Homo sapiens: one gene and its partners. The protein of the gene in region 1 purifies or fractionates together with the protein of each later gene. This does not show direct contact. Each region holds a gene or a part of one and is shown in the gene's direction. Other genes may lie near its edges. The genes, in order: ZNF382, IPO8, CCDC50 and GTF2IRD1.

Evidence for each region.
Region 2: the proteins of ZNF382 (region 1) and IPO8 purify together in Homo sapiens (co-immunoprecipitation; 2 studies listed by BioGRID and IntAct, with this or other methods). This does not show direct contact.
Region 3: the proteins of ZNF382 (region 1) and CCDC50 purify together in Homo sapiens (affinity purification with mass spectrometry; one large-scale study listed by BioGRID and IntAct). This does not show direct contact.
Region 4: the proteins of ZNF382 (region 1) and GTF2IRD1 purify together in Homo sapiens (affinity purification with mass spectrometry; one large-scale study listed by BioGRID and IntAct). This does not show direct contact.

What each region holds. Positions count from the first base shown.
Region 1 is NC_000019.10:36,601,699-36,609,762, forward strand, and holds the start of ZNF382 (zinc finger protein 382), read left to right. Parts: upstream 1-3,614; 5' UTR 3,615-3,649; exon of another isoform or gene 3,650-4,032; intron 4,033-5,853; 5' UTR 5,854-5,915; coding exon of another isoform or gene 5,916-5,924; intron 5,925-7,769; exon of another isoform or gene 7,770-7,803; intron 7,804-8,064. UniProt on the Homo sapiens protein: Functions as a sequence-specific transcriptional repressor.
Region 2 is NC_000012.12:30,632,274-30,639,637, reverse strand, and holds part of IPO8 (importin-8), read left to right. Parts: coding exon 1-123; intron 124-2,450; coding exon 2,451-2,656; intron 2,657-5,351; coding exon 5,352-5,555; intron 5,556-7,364. UniProt on the Homo sapiens protein: Involved in nuclear protein import, either by acting as autonomous nuclear transport receptor or as an adapter-like protein in association with the importin-beta subunit KPNB1.
Region 3 is NC_000003.12:191,392,942-191,400,571, forward strand, and holds the end of CCDC50 (coiled-coil domain-containing protein 50 long isoform), read left to right. Parts: 3' UTR 1-5,718; downstream 5,719-7,630.
Region 4 is NC_000007.14:74,454,491-74,461,854, forward strand, and holds part of GTF2IRD1 (general transcription factor II-I repeat domain-containing protein 1), read left to right. Parts: exon of another isoform or gene 1-22; intron 23-31; exon of another isoform or gene 32-320; intron 321-7,364. UniProt on the Homo sapiens protein: May be a transcription regulator involved in cell-cycle progression and skeletal muscle differentiation. May repress GTF2I transcriptional functions, by preventing its nuclear residency, or by inhibiting its transcriptional activation.

The sequences.
Region 1 (8,064 bases):
TATTATATAAATAATAAACTATAGAACAGAAAGATATTGAGTATATTGCCCAAATTCACACACAGTATTAATAATTAGCAAAACCTTAGATTTTAATTCAGATACTATAGAATAGGGGTTGGCAAACTTTTCTGTAAAGGACTAGATAGTAAATATTTTAGGCTTTGTGAGCTAAAAGGCAAAATTAAGGATATTATATAGGAGTTTATATAAAAGAGAGATGAAAAATTTCCCCTTTGTTTTTCCTTTTTTTAGAGATAAGGTCTGGAACTCCTGGCTTCAAGCAGTCCTCCCTCCTCAGTCTCCCAAAGTGCTGGGATTACAGGCGTGAGCCACTGCACCTGAACGCTACAATTTTTTTTTTTTTTTAAGATGGATTCTCACTGTCTCCCAGGCTAGAGTGCAGTGGCGCGATCTCGGCTCACTGCAACCTCCGCCTCCCAGGTTCAAGCAATTCTCCTGCCTCAGGCTCCCGAGTAGCTGGGATTACAGGCATATGCCACCATGCCCAGCTAATTTTTGTATTTTTAGTAGAGATGGTGTTTTGCCATGTTGGTCAGGCTGGTGTCGAACTCCCGACCTTGTGATCCACCCACCTTGACCTCCCAAAGTGCTGGGATTACAGGTGTGAGCCACCGCGCCTGGCCACCTCCACAAATTTTTAATTGCCAAAATCCAAAACTTTATTTATGGACACAAATTTAAATTGCATATAATTTTCACATGTCATGAAATATTACTCTCCTTTTTTTTTTTTTCGTGGTCAACTATTAACAAAAAGTTAAAACCAATCAGTTCACAAGCCATACAAAAATACAGGCTACAGGCTGGATTTGGCCCACAGGGCCATAGTTTGCAAACCCCTGTTCTAGACCCAGAGACCATTATACCATACTCACACAGTCTACACAGTTATGTGACTTGGGGGAAAAAAAGAAAAAAACACCTGGCCGGGCACGGTGGCTCACGCCTGTAATCCCAGCACTTTGTGAGACTGAGGCAGGTGGATCACCTGAGGTGGGGGGAGTTCAGGACCAGCCTGATCAACATGGAGAAACCCCGTCTCTACTAAAAATACAAAACTAGCCAGGCATGGTGGCGCATGCCTGTAATCCCAGCTACTCGGGAGGCTGAGGGAGGAGAATCGCTTGAACCCAGAAGGCGGAGGTTTCAGTGAGCCAAGATCGCACCATTGCACTCCAGCCTGGGCAACAAAAGTGAAACTCCGTCTCAAAAGAAAAAAAAAAAAAAACACGTGATGCGGCCAAACCTCATGCAAGAACTAGCTGGTACCATATAAATCTCCTAAGGTATCCCCTCGGAAAAACTTCCTGCCCTTCTTAACAGCTCTCTCTGCACATACTCTGCAATAATATTCTAACTCCTAAGGTCCTCTAAAACAAAAAAAGTTACTATAACCATTCAAACGATCTCCTATCTTGCTGTTTTTCCACTCATGTCTCTGAAGAAAATCTAAACTATCTAATGTGTAATTCTACCTAAGCAATTGGTCTCCTCCGTAACAAATCACCGTGTGAAGGCAGACTATTTCTATGTCATGAGAATGCTTAAACAAAAAGAGCACACAGGAGAAGTGAACATACTGTCAAGGTGTTATATGAAAATTAACTCTAGGAAGGGCATCTGATGAGGTACTGGAAAGAAGGAGATCTGTCTTCATAATGTCATCAGTAACTGGGAAGAGAAGGACTAGAGACCAGGTAAATAGATAAGTCACTATTTGGTGAGCATTTCAAATGAAGTTATTCCACATCCTGAAAAACAAAAATGCATTTCATAAAACAAAGAAAAAAATCAAAATGACCTCCAGCTTTGCTTTAAAATGTGCAACTACAATGCTTTTCTTCTCTCAGAGCTCTTCTCTTGGAATACAGCAAAATGTGGAAAGAAAGGGAATCACAATATACTCAGCCTTTCTTGGAGCCCAGACAGGCTAAATAAGAACACATTCTTCACCACCGGCAAGCTTCCATAACCCATGCTGAATATGACCAGATGGAAGTATGAGAAAGACTGGAATATTGTTGACTCTTCCCTTCATAAAGAAAAGTCAGGTTCACCAAAGCCTGGGACTGAAATGTTTCTGTATTCACAATAATTTCCTTTAGACAGCTATGAAAATGCTGTGGATCTGCAATATTCAACTTGCCCCCACAGAGCTTCCAAAAGGGATCTTTTGGCTAGGCACGGTGGCTCACGCCTGTAATCCCAGCACTTTGGGAAGCCGAGGCGGGTGGATCACCTGAGGTCAGGAGTTCGAGACCAGTCTGACCAACATGGTGAAACCCCGTCTCTACTAAAAATACAAAAATGAGCCGGGCATGGTGGTGCATGCCTGTAATCCCAGCTACTCGGGAGGCTGAGGCAGGAGAATTGCTTGAACCCGGAAGGCGGAGGTTGCAATGAGCCGAGATTGCGCCACTGCACTCCAGCCTGGGCAACAAGAGCAAAACTCCATCTCACACACACACACAAAATCTTTGGAGAAACGAATCCTACTCCTGGGGCCTCAATATCATATCTTCCCAGAACCTTGCCTTGGGAGCAATTCCAGCTCTAACATCTCCATATCAAACACGAGGCTGTGCATATCAGAACACAGCCTTGTCCATGTGAAACACAAGGCTGTGCTTTTTCAGTTGGAAACTTCATTCTGGATCTCAAATATCCAACTTTCTTTTCGATAGCCATTTGACTGCACACTGTGCAACGTGGTTATAAGGTGAAATGACTGAGGCAGTGAAAGAAATCCCAGTATAACAAACTCCAAGAAACCACGTAACTTAAAATTGGCCCCAGAGGTTGGCGAGGCTGCATGCCACTGTGTATTATGCATTATGAAAGCGACAGGGGCCATGCTTTAGAACAGAAGGTCTCAGAGTCTTCACAGACACAGATCGAGCCATACGGGGACCTTGTCCACGTATTCCTGAGCCCCAGAACTGCAGAAATCAAACTCTACAAAAGCTGCACCAGGCCAGTTTTGATCACAGTCTCCAGTGGGTCACAACAGCGCTGTCACAGGATCACTGATAACAGCATGACACATTCATAGTCACCGCTCAGCGCCGTCACACAAACGGCCCCGCCCCCACTCAGTCCCGCGGGCCCAATCGGGGACAGTCAGGGCTGTCCCGGGCTGTGCACCTGCTGTGCACACACACCCCCTGCTGTGCACACCCCCCGCCCCCCCGGGACCATCACAGGCGCGCCCACTCACACCACCACACACGGACGCAGCCACAGAACGGCACACACAAACACAATCACACAGTCTCCCTCCCCAGCAGGTGACTTGCACACAGGCCTGGGGCTTCTGCCTCCACAAACCCTCTCCGCGTCCCATGAACCCAGGTCCCCTGCCGTGAGCTCTTCTCGCATCCAGACCCGGGTCACCTCAACTCACCACATGGAAAACGAACACCAGGTCAACGGAAAAGGGAGCCGGGGTCCTGGCAGAAGCGTAGTGCCAGCCGCAATAGGGCGGCCGTGGGTGCAAACGGAGGGGAGCGCCGGCAGCTAGCACCGCGCGGCGACTAACGGGCCGCCCCGGAGACTCCTGGGAGCTCAGGCCCACGCGCGAGTGCGCAGGCGCAGACGACTCACCCTGGGCCGGGGGTGAGGCTTGGTGGGTGCCAGGGGTGCTGAGGAGGCCAAGGAGGGCACTGGGAGCTCCGTTCCGGGAGAGCTGTCTAAGGACGCGGAACCGGGTGGGGAGGCCAGGGAGGTAACCAAGAGTCCGAGCCGGGCCTGGAAATTCTGAGGAGGAAACCGGGACCGCGGTATCCAGACGCTCCGATCTGTACGAGCCGGGCCTCGGGCGTGGTCCATGGGCGTGACCTTGAGGGTGACCCGGAGCGAGCTCCGCGAAGGGGGATTTTGCCCGTTCTGATCCCGCGGAAGCGCCATCGCTGGCGGCGGGTCCCCGCGCGGAGCGGGCGCTGTGTGTTCGCGCGCGCGGGCGCGCGCTGAATAGGGGTGGCCTCCTGCGCCCAACCTGCTGCATTTTAGGTGCTTGCCTCTCTTTGGGATGTTGTGGCCGATTGTGTGTGAAAAGTGAACGGAGTAGTGTTGCTGCGCGAGGTTTCCTCTGCGTGTGTCTATTTTTAGATTAGGTGTGAGTCGCATTTGAGACTGCCTTTGAGTGTGGAGAATTGCAAGTGATTTGTAGGTGTGGTTGTGACTGCCTGGAGTCGTGTTAGCTGCTGTCTGAGGTTGTGAATGACAAGTGGGGCCTGTAGGTTGGTGGTTCTCTGAAGGATGTTTGATTGACTGTGACTCTGCATGTGTTTGTAACCTACTGTTACTTCTGGTGGTTTTGTGGCCTTAGTGACCTAAATATTTGAATGATTGAGGAACTCTGTTATGACCATGGCTAGTTGGTTATGTAAGACTTGATTATCTGAATAGTAGCCATTAAGCCTGCCTCCAAAACTGTAACTAAGTAGCAATTTAGCAAATAAAATAGAGATAACAGTATCAGAGGGGAAGAGATGATTTTCATAATTCCCAGATTCATTTCCTGGAAACACCATATTAACTAAAACCAGTATGTTGAAATGAATAGCATTCCATTGGGGACATGCAGGAAATTTTTTTTTTTTTTTTTTTTTTACCATAACTACCACTTTTGTTGTTGTTTTTTGTTTGTTTTAAGACAAGGTCTTGCTCTTTTGCCCAGGCTGGAGTGTAGTGGCATGATCTCTGCTCACTGCCACCTCTACCTCTGAAGTTCAAGTGATTCTCCTGCCCCAGCTTCCTGAGTAGCTGGGACTACAGGCTTGTGCCACCACGCTCGGCTAGTTTTTGTATTTTTAGTAGAGATGGGGTTTCACCATGTTGCCCAGGCTGGTCTTGAACTCCTGACCTCAAGTGATCCCCTCCCCCCGCCCCCTCGGCCTGCCAAAGTACTGGGATTACAGGTGTGAGCCACTGTGCCTGGCATAACTACCACTTTCAACACTTGTATATGAGTGAGGTTTCCTACTCCCTTAGGCTTGCTAAGATAATAAAAAGTATTTGATAGATTTTTAATAAGTCCAGTCTCACTGTAGTAATTAAAATAGTTATTTTGCGGGCCTGGTGCAGTGACTGATGCCTGTAATCCCAGCATTTTGGGAGGCCAAGGTGGGCAGATCACCTGAGATCGAGAATTCGAGACCAGCCTGACCAACATGGAGAAACCCCATCTCTACTAAAAATACAAAATTAGCCGGGCATGGTGGTGCATGCCTGTAATCCCAGCTACTCAGGAGGCTGAGGCAGGAGAATCGCTTGAACCCGGGAGGTGGAGGTTGCGGTCAGTCAAGATTGTACCATTGCACTCCAGCCTGGGCAACAAGAGTGAAACTCTGTCTCAAAAAAAAAAAAAAAAAAGATTATTCTCAACTACAACATAGACCAGATAGGCAAAGATTTAAAAGTTGTCAACTGTCTTCATCAGGGCTTGGGAAGGTATTCTCATCCACTACTATCAGTGTAAATTGGCAAAAAGTCCAAGAAGAACCGTTTGGAAATACACAGTAAACCTGTGGTTAGAGGTAGATGGAAGGCAGAGCTGCAGAGGGAAAAACACAGTGTTCCCTCTCTTCAAGCTAAAACAGGTTCCCCAGAATCCTGTATACTTTACCAAGAGACTGGGTTTCTGGTGTTTGTGAGGGAGCCTGATTTGTCTGTTTTCCCACTAACTACCATCCTGGACATCTGAAGGGTACACAGGGTGGACAAGTGCTGAAATAGTGAACATTCATGCAGATTTAACTGAGTTAATTCTGGGAGTTCTGAGTCAAGTATGGTCTCACATACGTATATCCTCCATCTTTGCTTTCTCAGGACTGTTTCTTTTTCCAAAAGAGGAGCTCAAAAGAGAAAGTTCATCTAGAAATCTCAAAGCCATGTCTCAGGTGAGATGATGTTTCCTCTCTTTCTGAAATAACTTTTTTTCATGGTGTATGAACATGAGCTTCACTGTCCTTTAACCTTCCCTGATATTGGGATTTGCTTCCATGAAATTAGTCTTCAGTCAGGGCCAGATTAGGCTGAGGCAGGCAAGTGGCATGAGGTGAAATATTTAAGGGGTACCCTCAGGGCTGTGCCCTCCTAAATTTTGCATTCTAGGTGCCTCACCTGCCTCACCCTGTATCCAGCCCTGTTCACAATTTCTCCATTCCAACCAAATCAACTTAAGCCTTCCCCAAGTGTACCTTCTGGTTGTACATATTCATTGGGTATATCATTCATCATCTCCTTTCTCAGTCTTCTCACAAACAAACTGCTGGAATAGAAAGGTATTGTCTTGATTTAAATGGGAATATATGGCTTGAATGAATTTAACTTGTCCTGATGCTGATTTGAGACCTAAGCTGTGAGTAGTCATGGAGCAGACGTGGAAAAACCTTGATGATCTCCGCTAGCCTAGGTTTTGCAATGGTACGTTGGGAAATAGAAGTGGTAGATCCCAGCATTAGTTTCTGGAAAGATGTCCTGCTTTGTGAGGTGTTTAGGATAGCAATTTGATTGCAGGCTTGTAAAGGAAACACGTTTTATGTTCCTCCTCTCTGATCTTTTTTCATTCATGTCTGCTAGCCATTCCTACAAATTGTGGGCTGCCAGTGAAAACCTTTCCAGTATTCCAATGCTGTTAGAGATTTGTTATTTTCTTTTTAGTTTCTTCTAATTTTTTATTTGCGGGTGCAGGAGAAGGAAATCCATATGCCAGGCCACTTTTGAAATATTCTATTGTTGATCAAACAGTACTTTGTCCTCTTTTCATATCTTTCAGAAAATTCCTCTTTAGCTCATCCACCAACCTTTAAAATACTGGTTTTCCTCAGATGCTAATTGGTTCTCTTCTTCTTCACAGTCCGTTTTTCTCTACGCACAATCAGATTCACTCTGAAGGCTACACTTAGTGTGATTCTAGTGACTCTCAAATACCCCTCTCCACTCTAGACCTCTGTCCAGAGTGTCAGAACCGAATATTCAACCTCCAGTAGCTATCACCACCTGTATGTTCCACAGACAAAGTACATTTCCAAAGCTTACCTCATTACTTCCTTTGGTCCAGCTTACATTTTCTTCCGTTTCCCATTTTCACTTTCTAGTCCCAGCAGCCATGCATTTGCCTATGCAGATAAAATGCCTGTATCTTTTCCACTCTACAGCCAATTTACGACCATCTCTGTTGTAATGGTGGTCATGTAGGAGCAGTTGTCCTCTGTCAGCCCGCTGACACTTCCTTAATCTAGGAGACATTTCTAACCATGGTTACTTAATTGTCATTTCCACCTAACATGTGATAAGCCTTTTCCAGTCTTCAGGAGTATTACCTCAAAACTTTTATCACATAACGTGTGTCAACTTATGTTTATTGATGTTCTTTACATTCCTTAAAGCAACAGACCCAAAGTAGGGCATGCCTCACAGTAGAATGTATAAGACGGTCTATTGGAAGGAAATAAAATACTAACAATTTACATTCGAGAGCAGTATTCATTAACAATGTAGATTTTCATAAATGCCTATTGATGGTTTATAAATAGCTACAATGTTGGGAATGTGTTCAGTATATCTTTAAGACCACTGTTCTGTAGGAAAAAAAAATCTAGTATCATGTCATAATATCCCCATTGCCTATCTCCATATACCTTTTCCTTCTTAGAGCTCAAAGACTGTTTCCTAACATACTGTGCCTTTTGCTATTTCCTGATTTACTAACTGGTTTTTTTCTCCCCATGAATTTTTAAAAGCTGATGCCCTGTATTCCTACAAAACAAATTCGTTGTGAGTACAAAACTTTTATGTCCTCAATGAAGCCTCGGAGTACAAAATGAAATTTTTCCTTGTTTTGTGACACTTTACCTTGTACGTATTTCTGTCATTGCATCTGTAAAACCTACTAAGTGCATGTATTTACATGTATGCCCCTCTCTTAGCCTATAACTTCTCATGAGCAGGGTCAGGGTTTTATTCATTTTGGTCTACCAGGCAACCAGTCACATTCAGGACAAATAGTGTGATCTCAGTATGTTTAGCATGAGATTA
Region 2 (7,364 bases), on another chromosome or scaffold:
CTTGTACTACAACCCTGATTTGCTGCTACATACTTTAGAACGAATTCAGTTGCCTCACAACCCTGGACCTATCACTGTACAGTTTATAAATCAATGGATGAATGATACAGATTGTTTTCTTGGGTATGTGTCTTTTGGATTTTACACTGCTTTTCTGTTTCTGGAAAGTTTGCTTTTTAATATTTGTGTATAATAGCATGTACAAAGATAATTTTCATGTCTTAGGAATTATTTTTAGTGTATTGTTAATATTTAATTTTTAGAGGATTAAGAATGCATTTCAGCAGGGTAATCTAGTGGAAAGAATGCAGCCTCTGAAAATTTGATGTAGCCCTTTCCCGCTTTTATTTTTTTTATTTATTTTTTTTAAACACAAGTGTATCATTGTATCTCTAGGCAACAAGAATTAGTTGTCTGTCTGGGTTCCATGATTAAGTGTCAGTGGGTAAAAACATTCTAAATGGAGTTGGATTTCTAAGGATGGTACCCCTCTGGCAAAGATAAAATGTAATGTCACAGAATGTTTAACTCTTTGCAGATCTCAGGGATGCCTGTTCTCAAAAGTGGAGTCAGAAGGCTTGTTATTTGTAGCCCAGGTGCTGCCCCAGTAGGAGAATTTGGTTTTATGTGAAGCACTCTTCCTAGTTTTCAAAAATAGGAAGAGTGAGGCCGGGCGCGGTGGCTCCCATCTGTAATCCCAGCACTTTGGGAGGCCGAGGCGGGTGGATCACGAGGTCAGGAGATCGAGACCATTCTGGCTAACACGGTGAAACCCCATCTCTACTAAAAAAGCACACAAAAAAGCTAGCAGGGCGTGGTGGTGGGCACCTGTAGTCCCAGCTACTCGGGAGGCTGAGGCAGGAGAATGGCATGAACCTGGGAGGCGGAGCTTGCAGTGAGCTGAGATCGTGCCACTGCACTCCAGCCTGGGCGACAGAGTGAGACTCCATCTCAAAAAAATAGGAAGAGTGAGATTCCAACTAGTGTTATGTGCCCACCTCAGGTCACCCAACACAGATTAGTGATTGTGTTATGCTAGAAATTGAGCTAGCTGTCTAATTTGTTTTAAAACACTATCTAATATCTAACTGGAAATTAATAGTATTCTTCTTAAGTTTTGTGAGAGATCATTTAGAAAAATTTCCTGAGAGGAACAGACTCCCCACAGTGGTTAAGACACTGCTGCCACAGGCAGGAGAAGATGGAGGCCTGGATTAGGGTGGGGCGTTAGGAATGGGGGAACATATTTACAAGCTGCTATGCGTGTTCTAATTTTTCTACTTGCAGGACACTGGAATTAATCCCTGATTGAGATTTGTTATTAAAACCTTGAAGGGAAGAACATACTATCAAAGAAATTGTTGTTAAAGTTATCTCTGAGAAAGATTTAGGGAGTAGAGATTTGGTAATTTAAAGTTAAGCGGTTGGTTCTCTTATGTGTTTATTAGCACTGGAAGCAGTCTCCCTGCTATTGTGTAGACTGGGAGTCCTTGGGTTGTGCTTCCTTGGATTCTTTCGAGCTCTGCTTGATAATCCTCTTTTCTGCTGTGATCCGTGTGGCATGTATTTAGGGGTTGCATGGATGAGAAGGTCCTCAGGTCAAGTACAGTTCTGTTATAGCGTACTAGTTGGGCATTAGTGACTTGAATCAATCAAGGAATGCAAATAATGAAGAATAACAGAAGCCTGTAGAATATTCATTATTGGATTTGTTATATTATTCGCACTTTAAACACATTGAATCGCTGCAAGTGAATTTTTTATTCACACAATTTTAAGAATGTTTTGCCAATGTAATCTTTTAGTTCTTAATTTTTTAGTTTTAAGCAACTTAGAGGAAGCATTTAGTAGAAAAATGTCTAATGTTTACTGGTCAAACTTTTTTTCTTTCTGAATAAAATTTTCCTTGTCCTTATATTTTTCTTATGCTATTTTATAGCACAGGAGTTTAGTAGACTGCTTAAATTAAGTTCAGCTTACTATCTTACTAGATGCTGAGTTTTTGAAACATCTTTCACCTCTTAGGGTTTGGGTAGATTATGTGTGCTGAGAAACCTTGTAGATCAATCTAATGTTGGAAGAGTCTAAGAAACTCTTCATTCCCCCCAACCATTGTATAGGACTTTTATGCTGTCAAATATAGGTATTTCTGCTTTATTAAAACTCCTTATGCCGAGGCCCATATATAACATTTATATTAATCATAAATTGATATTACAGCAAGATTCACCATGTTAATTGCAGACTCCCAATAGGTCTTTGAAAATAATTGGTTTACAAAATTTGATTTACATAGCATTTCATACAGTACAAAACAGGGAATGTCTCTGTATGATACCAACAGATGAACCTTAGAGTATGCCTTGGACATTTCTTTTTGTAGTTTCTCCAGAATTTGTTCTTTATTCCACTTCTCATGTCTACATTTTTTTTTTCTTCAAAATTTGCAGGCATCATGACCGGAAGATGTGTATAATAGGACTGAGTATCCTTTTGGAATTGCAAAATCGACCTCCTGCAGTAGATGCTGTGGTGGGACAGATTGTTCCCTCAATTCTTTTCCTTTTCCTTGGCCTAAAGCAGGTCTGTGCTACTAGACAACTGGTAAACCGGGAAGATCGTTCAAAAGCAGAGAAAGCTGATATGGAAGAAAATGGTAAAGTCTTCTAATTGAAATTAATGTTACAATTGATTTTGATTTGTGTATGCATTTTATATGAATACTAGTCTATATGGAGACATTAAACAGATTTACATTCTTCGGCCTGCTACACATATAACAAATATTTTGGGCTTGGTTGACTTGCTATTAATTGTATCATGCTATATAAATTTAGATTTATGCACCTTCTGACACCTAATATACTCAGCGGTTTTTTTTATGGAGCCTAATAGATGCTGTTACACATTAGGAAACACATTTATAACAATCAAATGGTCTTGACTGTAAGTTAGCAATCTAGTATCTAACTTTCTTGTTTGTGCTAACAGCCTCATCAAGGCAGTAGCCATGAGTTAAATGAATCATTACATTAAGAGCTGAAGTGTTAGTACCACAGATTAGTAGAGAGTGTCTTTTTTTTCTTTTTCTGGAATGGTTCTTAGGTGACTCATTAGCAAAAATTACATTTGAGAGACGTCCATATTTGTGATTTAAATATAAATTAAGGTAAAGTACATAAATGAAGTGGATATACTTGAGAATCAGAATAAGATTGTTAGAGTTGAATATTAGACCTTTGTTTTGTTTAATGATGAGATTGCGGAGCTACTTGCTAGAGACTAGGAAGTAGCATTCTCCTATTCCAGGTGGATTTTTTCCTCTCCTGGTTAAAAACAGATACTTTGTTAGCTGAGAAAAATCAGAACTCTTCCTGGTAAACATACAGCTCTATTTTTGATGCTAAATTCTGTGATTTTAGCATGGATAGATTTAAAACACTTTTAACTGGCATCATCCCAGTTTGTTCATATACCAGAGATTATAAACTACCCTTTTTCTCCCCTCCACAGCACAAAATACAGCTTCTAATTTGTTTTTCTGAAATCTGTGTAGGTCTTTTGAAGAAATGCTTCTTTATTAGAAGTGTTGCATGTGTGATTTTTGTTTTGTTTTGTTTTGTTTTTAGCTAACTGTGTGTCAACAGTTGTAGAATTCTTTTATTTTTTCCAGTATGTTATGATCTCTAATTTCTTGTTTTGGCAACTCTTTATTGGCTTATACTGTATGGCTTGAGGGAAAATTTTCTGGTAATATCCCACACTTTCTTGTACTTCCTACTAAAGTATGGAATGATTAACTAGTGGAGGTATTTCTCAGTCTTTTTGTATTAATAGTTATAATTTGCCATGCATTTTTTCGTGTATTTGGTCCAAACTCTGGTTAAGTGCCTTATTCCTAAAACTACCTAGTTCAATCTACCTGCTTCAATATGGTGTGTCTAATAGAACTAGTTTTAGGTTAATATTACCTGGTTTGGGTTTACTCCAGGATTTCTCTCTTATCTTGATTTTTGTTCTGCATTTACTGCCTTCCTGTTCCAGTATTTCAGTTACAATCTAACTGCTAGGAACAGATTGACACTGAAAATAGATACAGAATCCATGGTGATACATAATGTAGTTCAAGTTTTTAACTTTTCAAGCGACATGTAGCTATTTTTCTTTACATTTTTGCTATTTCTTTTTATTATAAATTAGCAAATTATATATTTATGGAGTACAAAGTGATGTTATGATTTGTGAATATAATGCGGAATGATTAAATCAAACTAATATATCCATCACCTTAAATACCCTTTTTAATGGTGGGAACATTTGAAATTTACAATCTTGCCAATTTTGAAATGTACATATACTATTAACTGTATTCACCATGCTGTACAATAGATACCAAAACAAAACAAAACAAAACAAAAACCTAATTCTTCCTGAGACTTTGTACCCTTTTACCAACATTCCCATATTCCCACCACCTCTAGCCTCTGGTAACCACCATTCTATTCTCTACTTCTATGAGTTTGATTGTTTTAGATTCTATGTATAAGTGAGAACAGGCAGTATGTGTCTTTCTGTGCCTGGCTTATTTCACTTATCATAATGTCCAAGTTCATCAGTGTTGTTGGAATTGACAGAATTACCTTTTTAAAAGCTGAATAGTGTTTCATTTTAAAGAATCCACATTTTCTTTATTCATCCGTTGTTGATGGACACTTAGGTTGATTCTGTAACTTGGCTATTGTGAATAATGCTGCGATGAACACAGGGCTGCTGACATCTGTTCTACGTATTGATTTAAAATATTTTAGATATATATCCTGAAGTGGGATGGCTGGATCTGTATTTTTACTGTTTCTACTAGCAGAAATGATCTCATTTGGGCATTTCTAAGCACTTTATAATCAACTCAGTTAATTAAGAGGACTGAATTCTCAATAGGAAGTCATTGTTTAAAACACATGCACTGACCGTACAGTCACTTTTTTTTTAAACAAAGGTAATTTTGAAATCTGCAATTGAATAATATTCTTGTATTAATGAACTTGCATAGCCTAACAGTAGTAATGTTCATCTGGATAACAGGTTTAGGGAACTTGTTTTCAGTGAGGAGGATAAGGACATTCTCAACTTAGCAAACTCTACAGTAAAGATAAGGTTTATTTATTTTATTTTTTATTTTTATTTTTTGACTCTCCTCTTTAGACCAGGGATAAGATTTATTTTTATTAAAATTTTGTGGAAGATTTTTTCCTTTCCAGAGTGTAGTTTTATAGTCTTTGGTTTTTGTCGTGAAGTTTTATATTTTGTCCTTATGTGTTTTGATTCCTTTTAAATAATTAATGGGTTCACAGAGGAGATTTCAAGTGATGAAGAGGAGACAAATGTAACTGCTCAAGCAATGCAGTCAAATAATGGAAGAGGTGAAGATGAGGAGGAGGAAGATGATGACTGGGATGAAGAAGTATTGGAAGAAACCGCGCTTGAGGGGTTCAGTACTCCACTTGACCTTGACAATAGTGTGGATGAATATCAGTTTTTTACACAAGCTCTGATAAGTATGTCTTTACTTCCCCACATCTTCTGATATTTTTTTTTCTAAACTCTTTCTTCATTTCTTCCTGTTTTGATATTTGCCCAAGATTGGTCTAGGTTCTTTTAAAAATTTTTTTGTTTATTCCTTATGATAGAAATCCCCAAACATACATACATGAAATGATAGAAATTAAAATAATGAAACACCTATCACCCAATCCTAGCAGCTTTCATCATTGAGAAGTAGCAGGGTGAGCCTGTATGTTATCCTTGCAAAAGTAATATGTGGAGTATCTGTGTATATTGTTCATCCTTTAGGCATAAATGGGCAAGCATTTTTATAGCAAAGAATGAAGTGTTTCAGGCATACATTGCTTAAAAATTGTGGCTAACAACCTACTAGTTATTCACAATCCCTAGAATGAAATTGCTGCCGTAAGAGGGTGACTTTTTACTTTGTAAGTAATTTGCCAATTTTATACAACAAAGAACAGTATAATTACAGTTACAGGACTCATAAATGATTCGGGGGGAGAAAATATTTGCCACATATGCATAATAGGCATAATGTACACAGTGTACAGAGGCCATCCTCAGATACATAAGACCAGTAACCTAGTAGAAAATGGAAATGGAAAATTTACAGAATAAAAACAAGCCAATGAGGATATTTAGAAAATTATTAATCAAATAAATTATTTTAAATCTCATTAATATAGATTATTTGTTTTATGGTTAGATAGTATTTCCATAGTTACATTGTAATTTAGTTCCACTGTGGGACATTTAAGATTGTTTCCAATGTTTTTACCATTATGAGGGTTATTAAAATGAACATCCTTACATGTAAATGTTTTTACTAATAAGGCAATATTAGCTTAATATATTGGCATTTTTTAGTGTTGCTACAAATAACATTAATGAAGAAAAAACTACCTAGATGTTCTTATTGAAATTCAGAGGAATTGGAGGCAGAGAACACAGGAAACTATATTCCAAAGCATGGGAAACGTAACAGCATAAACGTGGAGATGGAAATATGGAGGATGTGGCCTAGTGTAGTTCCAGACATGGGTGTGTCATAATCACCAAGGAGGCTTTTAGGTCTTGAGTAGGATCTCAGGAGATGTATTTTTAAAGATGCTTCTCAAGTGACAAGCAACTTTAAACCAGCATGTAGGGGCCACTGCTTAAAGACTGTGAAGGAACGCAGTTGGGCTGGGCTATAGTGGCCTTGAATTCTGGACTGAGGTGGTCCATCCCATTGCCCATTGGAATAGCGTTGAAAGTTGTGTTCTGAGGCGGTGACCTTTTAGATGTGGTAATTCACTTCAGGGGAGTTACCCGGTGATGGATGATGTGCAGAAAAAACTGGAAAGGACTAGATGTGGGAGCCAAGTGTTAGAGGTTCACTTTATTAATTTAGATGTATAGAGACCTGGAATGGGGAGGGTGACATTTGATGGAAAGCAGCATACAGATGAAAGACATTAAGAAAGAAGCAGAGCTTTGGGTGTGGAGAGGGCATGCTCAGGGATGTTAAGGATGCACAGTAGTGGACTGGGAGACTAATAGAACTGGTGAGATAAATGGAGAGATAGAAGGTTTGGGAGGAAATTGTTAAATTTGGTTTTAGTTGTGTTGAGTTTGAGATGAGCTATTCAAATGGAACAGTCCAGGAGGCTTAGGGGAAGGTTTTTCCTAGAGGTACAGATTTGAATCCTTGGGGTGGTAGCAATACTAAAGCTGCAGGTAGTATGAAAATTCCAGAGGAAAATGGTAACAAGTGAGTACTGGTGTTCTGGATTTTAGAGAACATCCATAGAAGACAG
Region 3 (7,630 bases), on another chromosome or scaffold:
TGGCCAGGCTGGTCTCGAACCCCTGACCTCAAGTGATCCACCTGCCTTGGCCTCCCAAGGTGCTGGGATTACAGGCTTAAGCCACCATGTCCAGCCAGCCAAGTATTTGGTTTTAAACATTTGTATTCCTTTGTGCAAGGGATTGTATTCCTCTGTACAAGACCTTTAAGCACCTCTTCAAGAAATTTAGTCTTTGTGTAGCTGCTAACCTTACTGCAATATTTATTTTCCCTTATTTTCCCATACTACTTAGTTGACAAATGGCAATCAAGCTCACTTGTTCTCCCTCTCTCTGTCTCCCCCCCATGTACACATATATATATCCCTTCAGCTTGACTTGCTATTATTTTTCATTGTATAAATATGAAATTCTTGGCATTTCAATATGGCATTTGTTTAGGGAAAAAATATGTAGGTCACTAGAGAAAAATGTTAATTTTTTTCCCACTGTGAATTGCCTTCTGTTTGCCTTATCTTTTCAGATAGTCTTTAAAGTTGGGCAATATTCAGGCAGCTATTTAGAACAGTTTCTCAGAGTGGATTTGGGTCTCTCATTTGAGAAAGATTTGTAGTTTCAATGAAGTTTGTATATTATAGGAATTTAAGTAAAATCATCTGAGTTAAGTTTTGGGCAAATGTTAATCAGAAAGATAATCTACATCCCTACTTTATGTAGTCATTTTGGAGAAATGGAGGAAAAGGAAAATAACAGGACTTTTTATAGCTGTGATAAAATGGGTAAAGAAAAACCTCCATTTAAATAAGGAAGGGGAGACAAAATGGAAGGTCCTGGCCTTAAGTCAAATTCCAGATAGTGCTTTCAATATCCAAAGCTTAGGCCTTGTTTACTTATAGTAATGCTATATTTTTCTTTATCTGCCCTGTGATTTCGCTTCGTGTCCTTCAAAGTTTTTTTATTGTAATTTTAAAGGAAAAAAACAATGTATTTTTATTTGATAACTAGGCAAAATCATTTGCCATTTTTTATTTCATAAATATTTATTTTTCTATCTCATACAATGATCAGTTTTACTTTAAAAATTCTGCATTTCTCTTGCCTCTCATGTACTTCATCCAGTTATTTATTATTGTAAAATGTTAACTGGAGATACTGCATTCAAAAAAAAGTCGGACCACTTAACACTTACCAGGAATGTTAGTGTTTCAGCTGTTTTAGTAAGTGACCAAGTAAGCTATCACCTTGTGATAGCTAATTCAACATCTTTATTGAAAATTTGTTACTTTTTTTAAAGGTTTTTAAAAGATTACAATTTTAAAATATTTTATGTTTATTTTATTTTTGTGTAAAGCAAACACTTTTAAAATAATATCAGAGTAATTATTACCCTATGAATAAGGAGATAGAAATGAAATTCAGCCAGTTAAATCCTCATACTCTTTCTCATTCAAATAATATAATAATGTTTGAGACTATAGAAGCAACTCAACTGTATTTTAATGAACTGCCAGACACTTTTCACTGTGTTCTCTGCTTTTTACTTTGTCATTTTTATATAAATGTGAAAGCATTTTGTTGTTGTTGTTGTTGTTCCTGCTGCTAGAACACATGCAGTTTAATTTTTAGGCCCACAGTGTATTATGCTTTAATGTTGTGATGTAAACTAATACTTCTGGCCTGGGAAAACCTTTCTGTTTCTGTATCTTTGTCCTTTGGAGGCCAGGCCTCATTAACACCAGTATTGTTGAATAAGCACAATATATGACGGAGCCTTATCATAAGGCTGCTTGACATAGACACCCACTCTCCTCCACATTTTATAAATCATTGTTTGGAAGTAAAGTTAGATAAGAGTCAAATTAAATGTTTTGACTTGAAAAATATTTGACTTTTGCGTTCAAACCACTGTTAGACGTAAGTATTTTATTAGACATAAGTATTTTATTTTGGGACTAGACAGTTGCTTTACATGTATTTAAGGGAACATTGTGATTTTCAGAAAGTGGCTTTACATACTATTGAATTGCTATTTCCCAAGTTACTTTACAACCAGCAGCAGCATACCAATAAATTACAAAAGCAGAAAATGAAAATTAACCCTAGGTGTTCTGATGATAGAGAAATAGCTAAATTAGAAAAGAAAGATATGGATAGATGCTTTTAGGAGGAAAACCTTTTTAGAATGGCAATGACCACTTGGATCTAGGTCAACATATTCCAAAATGTGTGACCTTGGGCTTTGTGTTTACTGAACTCACTCTAGAAAATTCTGGACCTGATTCATTAACCCCGCTTTTCTTCTCTAATGTGTCCTGAAGCTGAGCTAGATGATGAGTAAATTCTTTGCTGACTGTTGCTCATCACTTTCTCTCAAAGTTAGAACTTTTCAGTATAAAAATAATTAGCTTTTAACTGATTATTAATTTTCTTTAATAGTTTCTGTCAAAACTTGTCTAAAATTTGTGTTGTGCCAAATTGGAAATACCCACTATAATATGGTGCATTCAGTTTACTCCACAAGTGGTTAACATTTTAAGTCCTAGATTTTTTATGTCTTGCCTTTGTATAAGCATCGCTTTGGGGAATACCAAGATGATTCATTATTCAGTGATTATTTTCTTGAAAGATAACTATGATGATTGGCTGTAAAATCTTCACCCTAATAAAGGAGTGAGATCTCTGTGTAAACAGCTTTCTGAAGGACTGATAATAGAATAGAACTTGCAGCCAAAGGCTTTTTCCCTTTTGAGAAGACGGTATTTGTGTAAGGAGTGCTAAGGTAGACTTCATTGTACATAGAGTGCCATATTCTGTTGAAACGATCATAACAAAATCAAAACCTCATGCTTCAGCAAAAAGGAAAAAAGATTTTTAAATTACTTTGTCTATTACTTACTGCTCATAGAGAAGTGACTATATAAAATGGTCCAATTTTCTCATTTCTGGTGGTGCCTGTGAGTCTTAAAGCCATATCTGCTTATCTTACTGTTGATAGAATACTTTTTTTCTTTTTAGCCCATGATAAGTAATATGGGCAGGTAGAAGCAAACTGGAGACTGTCCTGTTAATGCTGCATGGGGCACAATGTCTTTCAAATTATTGGTGGAAGAATCTCTTTTATCCATGGCGAGAGGTAAGAATATTAAAGAGTCAGGATATTGTTGCTCCTGGTATTTAACAACTGTCATTAGAAATGCTGAAATTTAATTGTAGAGAAGTCAAGAAAGAAAGAGTAAACTGAGAAAATCTTACTACTACAGAGTCACTTTTACAATGAGACCTGCACTTTATGCCAGCACTGTTTGTGAGGAGCAGTACTGCCTTAAATTAGTTTGACTCTGACTGATGTCAGTGTACGTTACTTCCTTTATGTGACTGACAGTCAGCTTTCCATTGAGATATAACATTCACAGATGATCCCCAAGTATCCTTGTCATCAGAAGCTTTGGACCTTTTCTGCCACTGACTTGTGGCTGATCTGTAACACAATAAATACATAATTTTATTTCATGTTGTCTGTCCACCTCTGAATAAGCAGTGGCATGACCAAAAAGACTGGTAGAAGGAGAGAATTTCTTGGCCAAATCCTTCATACCAGGTACCACTTCTTGAGTAACTGAGAGTTGACTGTCTTCTATGGTGACTACATAGAAGATATTTCCAAAGGTTCTGTTATGCAGTGAAGACATTCAGATTATTTGTAAGAATTTCACCAACACCCTTGTGTATTGAAATGCTTAACCATTAACAGGGAAAAAAAAGGAGAAAACCGAACAAAACAGAGACATTTACTTGAAATGGGAGGTTTGCTAATGTGAAGAGTGTTTCTGTTTTATTACTTATAAGAGAAAAGCAGGAAAACTTTTGCTTTGATAAGAAAGACACCAGAGTGGTGATTCTGTTTGATGCCACAGGCTAACACAATCGTGTAATCATGTTGAGTTGTAGAAATATATGGCCCTAAAAACCATTCTCTTTCCCTTATATATATAAATATGTGAACACTGCCTAGTAACATTTTAATAGATTTAAGATGCATTTGTACATTCTCAGCAAACTAGAAGAAAATGTTTTTTCTCTTTTTGAGTTAACTTCATAGCATAGAGAACCAGCACTGTGCAGGTTTCAGCATTTCAGATAAGGGCATAATTAATTGTGTAACTTAATGCCCTGTTATTCATTGCTGAGGTTCATATAAAGAATAGAAAAATTGAAAGATGGGTTTGGGCGACATTTTCTTCCCAAAAGATCAAGTAAGGAGTAAGAACAAGTAAGGGAAGACAGCTAAGAGAACATACTATGACATATCATAGAATTGGGATACATTTTTGTTGCACTGGATTTCAGGCTATACTGCTAAAATAATTTCTACCTGTTAAATTTTGTGAGAGGGTTTTTGACATCAGAATTTTTGTATTTCTGGTCAAATTGGTCTTGGAAATCCCTATGGTCTCTAATTTCAGCTCTTGCTGTAAACTGCAAGCCAAATGCTCTTTCTCAGAAAGAGCTATATTTTTCTCTTCTTACAGGCAACCCAATATTTATTTCATAAAGTGTTATAAATATTGAGAAGATACACTGGGGAGATAGCATATAAAAATGATGCTCCAAAATGAGAATTCTATATGGGGCTTTCCCTAAGAAGAATCCATCCCAGCACATATTTTGAAAAGGTGCTGAATTAAAAAGTACAAGAGTTTGCTCATATAAATCAAGTTGCCCAGGAAACCTGAGGTGATGCTATCATTTGTCTCATAATTTAGAAACGTGATCTCTTGAGAGAGAGACTACGCATTGCCTGGGCACTTTCAGATTCCTTAGGAAGTGCCCCTTTGATATTTGGAATGTGGATATATTTATAAAACAAATGGATTGTTATTCCAAATCCACATGGATTTATAACCAAGCCCCAGAAGAATAGGCAGCTTTGAAATAGCTAGTTCGTGGAATTGAACAGAACCTTGATGGAATGCAGTTGCCTGTGTGAGGACAGAAAACAAAGAGGCTGCCTCAGACCACATGCCTATCTAGAGATTAAGTGAATTTGTGAGGGACATTTTGTGGATGCCTTAAAGATGACCAGTGGTGGGTTCTGATGGGAATATATACACTCATCTGGACTAGGCCAATGGAAGCAGTCTCTTTCAGTTCACCTCCGTACAGCACAAGTTGTTCCTGCTCATGACCTCATTGAGGAAAATGAGAATTGTGGTGCTGGTGACTTTCATGTGTCTTGGGAGGTTGAGGTGTTCAACATCGTTAAGGCACTCCCAAAACGCAAACCTCCTTTTTTAAATGCCAATTGTACATCTACATTAATTCATCTATGCAAACTTGTGTTTTCATGGTTTGTTTTTTACACTATATTTCTCATTAGGTTCTTTAAACATCAGGTTTAATATTGATATTATGAATAATTTTTAAACCAAAGTATTCTATAAGTCTGTGTGCTTTGTTTTCCTGGATGGTTTGACCAAGGTAAACATCAGTCTTGTCCTTCTCTCTTAATAAAGTCATCCATTTGTTAAGTCAGTGGTCTCTGTCTCATGTTTTTGTTTTGTTTCTTTACAGCATTCAAGGACAGGGAAACTTACGAGAGTCTTATTATAATTATTATTATTTACAAAATGACCCTAATAGGTCTGTTTAGTAACAGTGAAATTTTTTCTTACTCCATTTCCATACACTTTCTGTAAATATGTATAACATGATAATGATGCCTGGTGTATTGAAATCCTCAATAAATACTGCCAAGTGTGGATCAGTTGGAGAAGTAGCTTTGTTTTGTGTGTGGTGTTTCGTGGTTTGATTGATATATTTGGGAGGAAAAAAAACAGGTAAGTGGATGTTCACACAATAATTCCAGTGATTAAAGACCCCATGCACAACTCTGCACTATACCTGACACCTTGTGGACACTTCAATGTATTTTGAGAAATGGATATTAATAACTGATTTATTCAATATTTTACCTTCATAAGAATTTTTTTTTTCTTATTTGGTTTGATAGAATAGCCACAATGTAGGAAATGATTCTGCAAAAATTAGGTATCTTAAATATAATATTTTCAATGACTACTAAATTTATTTTTAAAGATGTCACTATTTAGCCACCCCTACAGTAGATTCTCTAGGCCTCAGATTCCTCTGTGGCAAATATAGCAGGAAATCTAAATGATTTCTGTAGTCTCTGCTAGATCCTGAGTAGTACCAGTGATGTGCAGGTGATACTGTTTTATTTAGTTGAAGATTAGTATGTTGATTTCAACCTTTGGTCTCTAAATAAATACTAAAGTTGCCAGTGGAAAAAGTTGATGCATCTAGAAGCCAACTAAAAAATTAAATATGCAAGTAAAACAGATCCCTTTAATCTGTGGTAAGAGGTACTCAAGGTGATAGGGTGGTTTATGGGGAATATGACTTGAGTCTGATTGTCAGGCTATGGCCATGTGGCCATGTGAAAAGGTAGCATACAAGAAAGTTCCTTCTTTTTTTTTTTTTTTTTTTTTTTTTGAGATAGAGTCTTGCTCTGTCGCCCAGGCTGGAGTGCAGTGGCGCGATCTCGGCTCACTGCAAGCTCCGCCTCCCGGGTTCACGCCATTCTCCTGCCTCAGCCTCCCAAGTAGCTGGGACTACAGGTGCCCACCACCATGCCTGGCTAATTTTTTTGTATTTTTAGTAGAGATGGGTTTTCACCGTGTTAGCCAGGATGATCTCGATGTCCTGACCTCATGATCCGCCTGCCTCGGCCTCCCAAAGTGCTGGGATTGCAGGCATGAGCCACCGCGCCTGGCCAGTTCCTTCTTACAACAGCTAAGAGACCACTATCTACCTCGCACACCTTCGAAATTTGGTGAAACCTTTAAGAGGGTTTTGGACTACTACAAATCCTAGAACCATGGTTTCAAGACAATTTTGCCCCCATTTCAAGGGCAGGAAGACCAATGCCCCTCCTCCATTGTGTTTGGGTATCATGCTTAAATGAACGAACATAAACTAAAGGCTGCTGCGAAATCAGTGTACTAAAGAAATCTACAGGAATGAGATACGGGGTCCTAGTCCAGGTTTTGCTATGAGCTTGTTTCAGGACCTTGGGACATCATTTATCCTGCTGTACCTCAGTTCACTTGCCTGAAGCACTACTTCAAGTATAACATTTGAGGATTCCTGCGGTCAACGGCTGCTGGTTTCTTTTAAGATGTTGCCAGGAAGAGAGCAGCTTTATTCACTGCTGGGTCCTGTAAAATCACAAAGACTTCCTAGGCATTCCATCATGAAAGACAACCATGATCTTTTGTTCTTTACTGCAGTATTTTGCTACTTCTGTCTCCACATCCAGTAGATTGTCATTAACTTGTTATGTGTTTTTCTAACCAATACCCATCTCTATGTTTTATTCCCAAGGCTGAAATTTGAGCCTCTTTCCTCAAATGGTCTTCGGATGTTCTTGTAAATTAACTCCACTAGTATGTCTTGCATACCATACTTCCAGGACACACCCACTTTTCTTATCGATTCCTCAGCCTAATGATGCAAATTTGGTTTTGATCATGTAGATCATAACATACCCTTAAGTATGCCTGCCACTTTAAAGTATTTTGTGTCATTACCTGATCTTTGCCATCACTAGCAGTGCTCTTTGTGCCTAATCTTTTTGAAACCTTTCCTGCT
Region 4 (7,364 bases), on another chromosome or scaffold:
GCTGCTGCAGTTGGCGAATGAGGTCAGTCGCGCTGCCCGCGGTGGCGGGCGCCGGGGTGGGAGCAGAGGGGGCTGGGAAGGCCGCGGTCCCCGCCTTTCCCCCCTCCACCTTCTCCCGGTCTGGGCCAGCCCCTGGCCCGCGCCCCCAACTCCCAGGCGGAGTCCAGTCCAGCCAGGATTGCCCCAGCAGGGTGGTTCCTGTAGTGGACCCCCCGCCCCGGCCCCGGGGAGGGGGCTGGCCTGTGTGGTGGTGGCCGCTGAATCCCGGGTGGAGGGGACTCAGAAGGTGGCAGTGGGGGGACCACAAAGGGTTCAGAGGAGTAAGTTGGGGATACTCGGTCTGTGGGTGGTCTCTGAGTTCCTGCAGATGGGTGGAGAGGACAGAGGAGGGGCCACAGGGTGCTGAACACCCACCCGCCCCATCCTAAGTACCCTGGGCATGATGGGCTTGACACCTCTCCTGGGCTCCTCACCCCTGGCCAGCAGCCAGGGAGTGAGACCCTGCCTCGCCTGGCGTGGGCCCAGGGAAGGGGGCCGCTGTGCCGCTGAGAGTTCGTTCCACCCTCCTGGCAGTGCTGGAGGGGGCTGGAGCTCTGGCGTCTGGCCTAGTGACCCTACCTCCCAGGACCAAGGTCCTGCGGTGGGAGTCTCCTGTGTCCCCATCCCAGCTGAAGCGAGGGTGCTGGGACATAGGGGTCTCGCTGCAGGGCCTGTGAGGGGAGCACTGACTCTTGGATGGAGAATGTGCCAAGGGGTACCCCGGGATGGCCCTGGGCCTGGCGGGTGGGAGTGGAGGGCAGGCCCCCGCAGTTTTTGGAGAAGTGGGCATTTGCTGGGGTTTCTCTTAGAAGAGGAGAGGGGTGTCTAGAAGCCACCCTGGCGCGCCGCTGCCATGGTCGGCCTCTGTGTGTCTGGCTGCCCCGTGGCCAGGACTGTTGACTCCTTGGCACTGGCCCGGGGCCTTGGGACTTGGAAGGTGCCCCAAGCAGCTCATTTATTTCAGCAGTGTCATTCCAGAGGGGAAGGGCACCAGCATCGATTATTTATTCTAAGCAGGAGGAGGTGGCTGGAGGCTGGTGGCTGCTGGCAGGGAGGGGCTAGGTATAAGGTAGTTAGGTGGCCGTCATGAACCGCCCTATTTGGGGCCCAGGAGGGTGTGAGATAGACTCTGACCTCTTCTGAGCAGGCATCTGCGGACCAAGGGACAGGCTTGGCCCCAAGGTGACAGGGTATCGGAACCCCCATCCTGCCTCTGGGGTGTGGGAGGCTCAAGTCCACACCTCGTTCTTCCACAGCCTGTTCTGAGGGTGACCTAGAAATTGGCAGTTCTAACTCAGAGGGTCCCACAGGACCCCACAGAGGAAACTAGGAAGGAAGGGTTGAAACTCCGCAGCCACTCAGAGCCTGCACTCTTAAAATGTTCGAGAACTTAAGGCCGATGGTTGTAAAACTGGGTCTTGAAGACAGCTTTGTAGGGGGCACGCTAAACCTACTTAAAAGGACTGTTCTCTCGATGTTGGGAGAAGGGTCATTTATTTGCAGTATGCTAATCACAAATAATTTTTATCTGTTCATTGAAGGCAGCCTCCCAGGAGCCCGGCTAGCCTTCTGATGAGGTGGTAGTCGTCAGCACTTGGTGTTTGGCAATAGTCTGAGTGGCAGCTGTAATCTAGGGTCTTGGAGGTAGCTGTTTTTGCAGCCTGCTTGACTCCAGAGGCCAGGCCATCCACGGTTTGGTGACAGCTTGGTTGTTGGACCTGGGGTCTTGTGGATGGTGGGTGATGGCTTGGGACATTCACGTCCTAAGCATGACCTTGGAACCATAGACTGCAGCTCCCAGATGATTCTCATTCAGGGTCTAGTCTCTGACCACTCACTGCTTCCTCAGCCGACTCATAAATCCTGTAGTCTGGCCGGGCGCAGTGGCTCACGCCTGTAATCCCAGCACTTTGGGAGGCCGAGGTGGGTGGATCACGAGGTCAGGAGTTCAAGACCAGCCTGGCCAACATGGTGAAACCCCATCTCTACTAAAAATACAAAAAATTAGCCAGGCGTGGTGGCAGGCATCTGTAATCCCAGCTGCTCGGGAGGCTGAGGCAGGAGAATCGCTTGAACCCGGGAGGTGGAGGTTGCAGTGAGCCAAGACCGCACCACTGTACTCCAGCCTGGGCAACAGAGCAAGACTCCATCTAAAAAAAAAAAAAGAAAAAATTCTGTAGTCTTGCCGTTTTCCTGAATGGCCTGGCTTCCTCCTACCCCTGGCCTCTGCACACACAGTTCCTCTTCTCTCGAAGGTTCTTCTTGGCCTTTCCCCTGAGGAGGCTGGGGGGCTTCCTTTATTAGCCCTGCCTGGCTAGGGTAGGGGGTCAGGATTATAGAATTTGCCTCTTTTCCTCTCCTTCAGGACTTGGCTTGGCTGTGGTATCTTTGGGCTGAAGACTTCCTCGTCCTCAGGGCTGGCCATGGTTCCACCTTTATATCCCCATGATGTCCTCTCTTTTTTTTCTTTTTTTCTTTTTTTGAGACAGTCTTGCTCTGTGCCCAGGCTGGGGTGCAGTAGTGTGATCACAGCTCACTGCAGCCTCGAACTCCTGGACTCAAGCCACCCTCCCACCCCAGCCTCACAAGTAGCTGGGACCGCAGACAAGGGCCACTACACCTGGTTAATTTTTTATTGTTTGTAGAGATGGGGTCTTGCTATGTTGCCCAGGCTGGTTTCGAACTCCTGGGCATGAGGAGTCCTCCCACCTTGGCCTCTCAAAGTGCTGGGATGACAGGAGTGAACCACCGCGCCTAGCCAACATCCTTTCCTTCCTTTGTCCCAACATTGATCTTACTCAGATGTTTACATCTCTCTCCCCAATTGCACTAGGGACAGGAAGGGATGGAGGCTTGCTCCTCAAATACTTGTTAAATGGCTACATGTTTGAATGAATGAATGAATGAAATCCTGCTCTTGAGCCTTGACCTAAATGGCTAAGCAGACTCTCTCCTATTTTTCTTAAATGCTCATCTCTGGGGCAAGTTCCCCACCCTGGTAGGAGTCCCAGGGTCTCTCCCTGAACTTCCTGGGGCCCCCTCTCTCCCCACTACCCCAGCCTGTGTCTTCTCCCAACCTTAACCCTGGGGGCTTTGCTCCCCAATGTCATCCTCTCTGTATCTCTCAGTTCTCTGACTCTCGCCGTTTGTAAGTATCTCTCTCTCAGATGCGTGGCAGCCAGGGTCACAGCCAGGTTCTTTGGGACAAGCCAGGGGTGTATGCCCAGCTCCATGGGGCCTGCAGAGGCTTCAGGGGACACCCATGGAAGAAGACCTGCAGGGCCAATTTATAAACAGAGGAGCAGAGCAGGACCCAGGGCTTGGAATCCATGCTGAGTTACGTTTTTGTTTTTTTTTTTTTTTTTTTGAGAGGGAGTCTCACTTTGTCGCCCAGGCTGGCATGCAGTGGCGCCATCTCGGCTCACTGCAACCTCTGCCTCCTGGGTTCAAGCGATTCTCCTGCCTCAAGTAGCCGGGATTACAGGCATGCTCTACCACGCCCGGCTAATTTTTGTATTTTTAGTAGAGATGGGGTTTCATCATGTTGGCCAGTCTGGTCTAGAACTCCTGACCTCAAGTGATCTGCCCGCCTCTGCCTCCCAAAGTGCTGGGATTGCAGGCATGAGACACTGCGCCCGGTCCTGAGTTCAGTTTTGATTGGGGGGCTTCCGGGATAATATGGGGCCGCTAGGACAGGGACCCTTAGTGTGACTGGAAGGGAATTTCCTGAAGGAATTCATAGCAGAGGTGGAGTGGTGGGAAGGATGGTTTCTGGGGGAGAAGGAGATGCGTGAACCTGGCCAGAAGACAGTGTGTTGTGACAGATGATTGCTGGTGAGGGGGTAACAGTCTCCAAGGTGTAGATGTTGGGGGCTCCAGATACGGCAGGAGGGGCCTGGCCTCTCGGAATCCCCTCAGCCCCATCTCATAGAAACATGTGCTTTCTACCCAGGCTCCATACTCCGGAAGGGAGGCAGGACCCTGTCACTTTCTTGGCCTACTTTGGAAGTTCTCAGTCAGGTATCTCCAGGTGTGGCAGAGGGGCTTTGGCCTGTAGGGGGTGTGGTAATGTGGGTTTTGGAGGCAGAAAGCTTTTCAGGAAAGCCCCCTGGTCCATCACCCCCCTTTCTTTTTTTTTTTTTTGAGATGGAGTCTTGCTTTGTTGCCCACGCTGGAGTGCAGTGGCACGATCCCAACTCACTGCAACTTCCACCTCCCGGGTTCAAGTGATTCTCGTGCCTCAGCCTCCCGAGTAGCTGGGATTACAGATGTACACCACCACACCTGGCTAATTTTTGTATTTTTAGTAGAGACGGGGTTTCACCATGTTCGCCAGGCTGGTCTTGAATGAACCCCTGACCTCAAGTGATTGGCCCTCCTTGGCCTCCCAAAGTGCTGGGATTACAGGTGTGAGCCCCCAGGCCCGGCCTCATCATCACTTCTTCACCCACCCTATTTTGGTAGCTCTCTCTCCACTCGTCCTGTGGAACTGATCCATTCTCGGTCCCATTCCCTTCTCTCTGGGCCAATCTGCACCTAGGTTTGTGGCTTCATGAGTATGGAGGGTCGTGCAGAAAGGGGCCAGGTCTGTAGGAACCTGGGTTCATGCCCTGGAAATTTGCCCATTTAAGATAAGTTAGGGCCGGGTGCGGTGGCTCATGCCTGTAATCCCCAGCACTTTGCACTTCGGGAGACCGAGGCGGGCGGATCACCTGAGGTCAGGAGTTTGACTAGCCTGGCCAACACGGTGAAACCCCATCTCTACTAAAAATACAAAAATTAGCCAGGCGTAGTGGCGGGCGCCTGTAATCCCAACTGCTCGGGAGGCTGAGGCAAGAGAATTGCTTGAACCTAAGAGGTGAAGGTTGCCGTGAGCTGAGATCGTACCATTGCACTCCAGCCTGGGCGACAAGAGTGAAACTCTGTCTCAAAAAAAAAAAGATAAGATAGGTGTCCTGAATAAGATAGGTGAAATGGGTGAGGATGTACTTTATCTTACACGGTCTTAGGGAGTGTCTCAGGCGGTGAACAGAACTCTCTCGCCCCTGAGCTGGGGCCTGGCTGACCCAGAGCTATTTGTGTGCCCACCTGTCACCCTCTTTCAGGACCACCTGCTTCAGGTTGCCAGATTTAGCAAATAAAAATAAGGATGCCCAGCTAAAATTGGATTTCAGACAAGCAAGGACTAATGCAATATTTGGGATGAACTTCTAGCTAAAAGTTACCTGTTGTTGATCTGTAGTTCAGACTGAACTGGAGGTCTTGCATTTTATCTGCCAACCCTACAACTGCTGCCTCTGGGGCGGTGAGATGGATGGGGTTTGGGGAGGGGCCAGAGGTGTGTGTGGCTGACCCTGGAGTTGGGATCAGGGCTCAGTGGAGGCCCCGGGGATGATCTGGAGCGAGTTTGAATCGAGTGGAGCTGATTCACTGAATCTTGGCTTTTTTTTTTTTAATTTGTATTGAAATGAGGTCTCACTCTGTCACCCAGGCTGGAGTGCAGTGGCACAATCTCGGCTCACTGCAGCTTCTCCCTCCCCGGCTCAAGCGATCCTTCTGGCTCAGTCTCCCAAGTAGGTGGGACCACAGGCACACGCCACCGTGCCCGGCTAATTTTTTGTATTTTTGGTGGAGATGGGGTTTCGCCATGTTGCCCAGTTCCTGAGTTCAAGTGATCTCAAAGTGCTGGAATTACAGAAGTGAGCCACTGTACCCAGCCAGCAGGGTCCTTTTTCATTTTTATTTTATTCTATTTTTTGAGACAGTGTCTCACTCTGTTTCCCAGGCTGGAGTGCAGTGGCGTGATCCTACCTCACTGCAACCTCCAACTCCTGGGCTCAATGTGATCCTCCCACCTCAGCCTCTGCACCTAGCTAATTAAAAAAAAATTTTTTTTTTTTAGAGATGGGGTCTTGCGATGTTGCCCAGGCTGGTCTCAAGCTCCTGGCCTCAAGCGATCCTCCCACCTCAGCTTCCCAAAGTGCTGGGATTACAGGCAGTATCCTTCTAATGTCCTTGGTCGGGCCTCCTCCAGCCTGTGGCTCGAGGGTCTAGATCTCCTACTGGCCTGGGTGGCATGGAGGGTGTAGTCTAGGTGGCCTGAGGGGTGCCCAGGGATCCCCAGTTTGGGAAGTCCTTGTCTTCAGGGATTTCTGGCCAATGTGGTCCGTATATTTAGAGATGCTGGGAGGAGGGGGTGGGAAATTGCTGGAAACACCCTATTATACACCAAGTAAGATTTTCATGTAGGATTGGCAAGGCCTGAGTGCTGGGAAAGTGTCTGCAATGGCTACCTTTCAAAGCTGGGAGACCCCGCCACGGGGGCGGTTGTGGACTTGAGGGGCTGACCCCACAGCACGGAGGCTGCTGGGAATTCCTGCACCTTTGCCATGCTGCCACCTGAGGCAGGTTCCCAGCACCTGAGCTGCAGCCTCTGGAGTGGGGGAAATGGGGGGAAAGTAAGGGGCCGGGGTCATGGGGTCCACGTCCACCTTCCGCCCGCCTGGGCAGTTTTCTTGGATGTAAAAGGGAGATGGCTCTCCCCAACCTGCCTGGGTCCCAGTGTGGTGCTGTAGTCCAAGGGACTTGGTGTGACCCCGTGGGGATGCCACAGCATGGGTGTGTGGGACCCCCGGGGGCAGGTCTGTGGTGGAGACAGGGTGGGAGGGCCTGGCTTGAGGGCTTGCGGTCCTGGGCACTTGAGGATGCAGAAGAGGCTGCATGGTTGGGGAGGGTAGGTAAGCAGGGGGCAGCTTAGCCCTTTCCCCTCCTGTTCCCTGTGACAGAGGGGAGACCCTCCAGGCTGTTTGTGTCTTAGATGGTTGGCCGAGGGTAGGCCTCTTTGCTGGCTGGGGTCTAGCAGGGTCTCAAGGTGCATTTTCTGGCTACTGGCAGAACCACCATCAAAGCAAGTCCGTATCTTTTCGTCTATCCATCTGTTGTTACGCCAGCCAGTGAGGACCTTGCAGAGGCGTCAGGCCTGAGGGAGTCTCATTAGGTCCTGGTCCCCAGCCCCCGGCTGGCACATGAGAAGGGCCCACTTTATATTTTATTTTATTTATTTATTTAAGATGGAGTCTCACTCTGTCACCCAGGCTGGAGTGCAGTGGCGCGATCTCGGCTCGCTGCAACCTCTGCCTCCCGGGTTCAAGCAATTCTCTTGCCTCAGCCTCCTGAGTAGCTGGGATTATGGGTGCATGCCACCTCGCCCAGCCAATTTTTGTATTTTTAGTAGAGATGGGGTTTTGCCATCTTAGCCAGGCTGGTTTTGAACTCCTGATCTCAAGTGATCTGTCCACCTTGACTTCCCGGAGTGCTGGGATTAC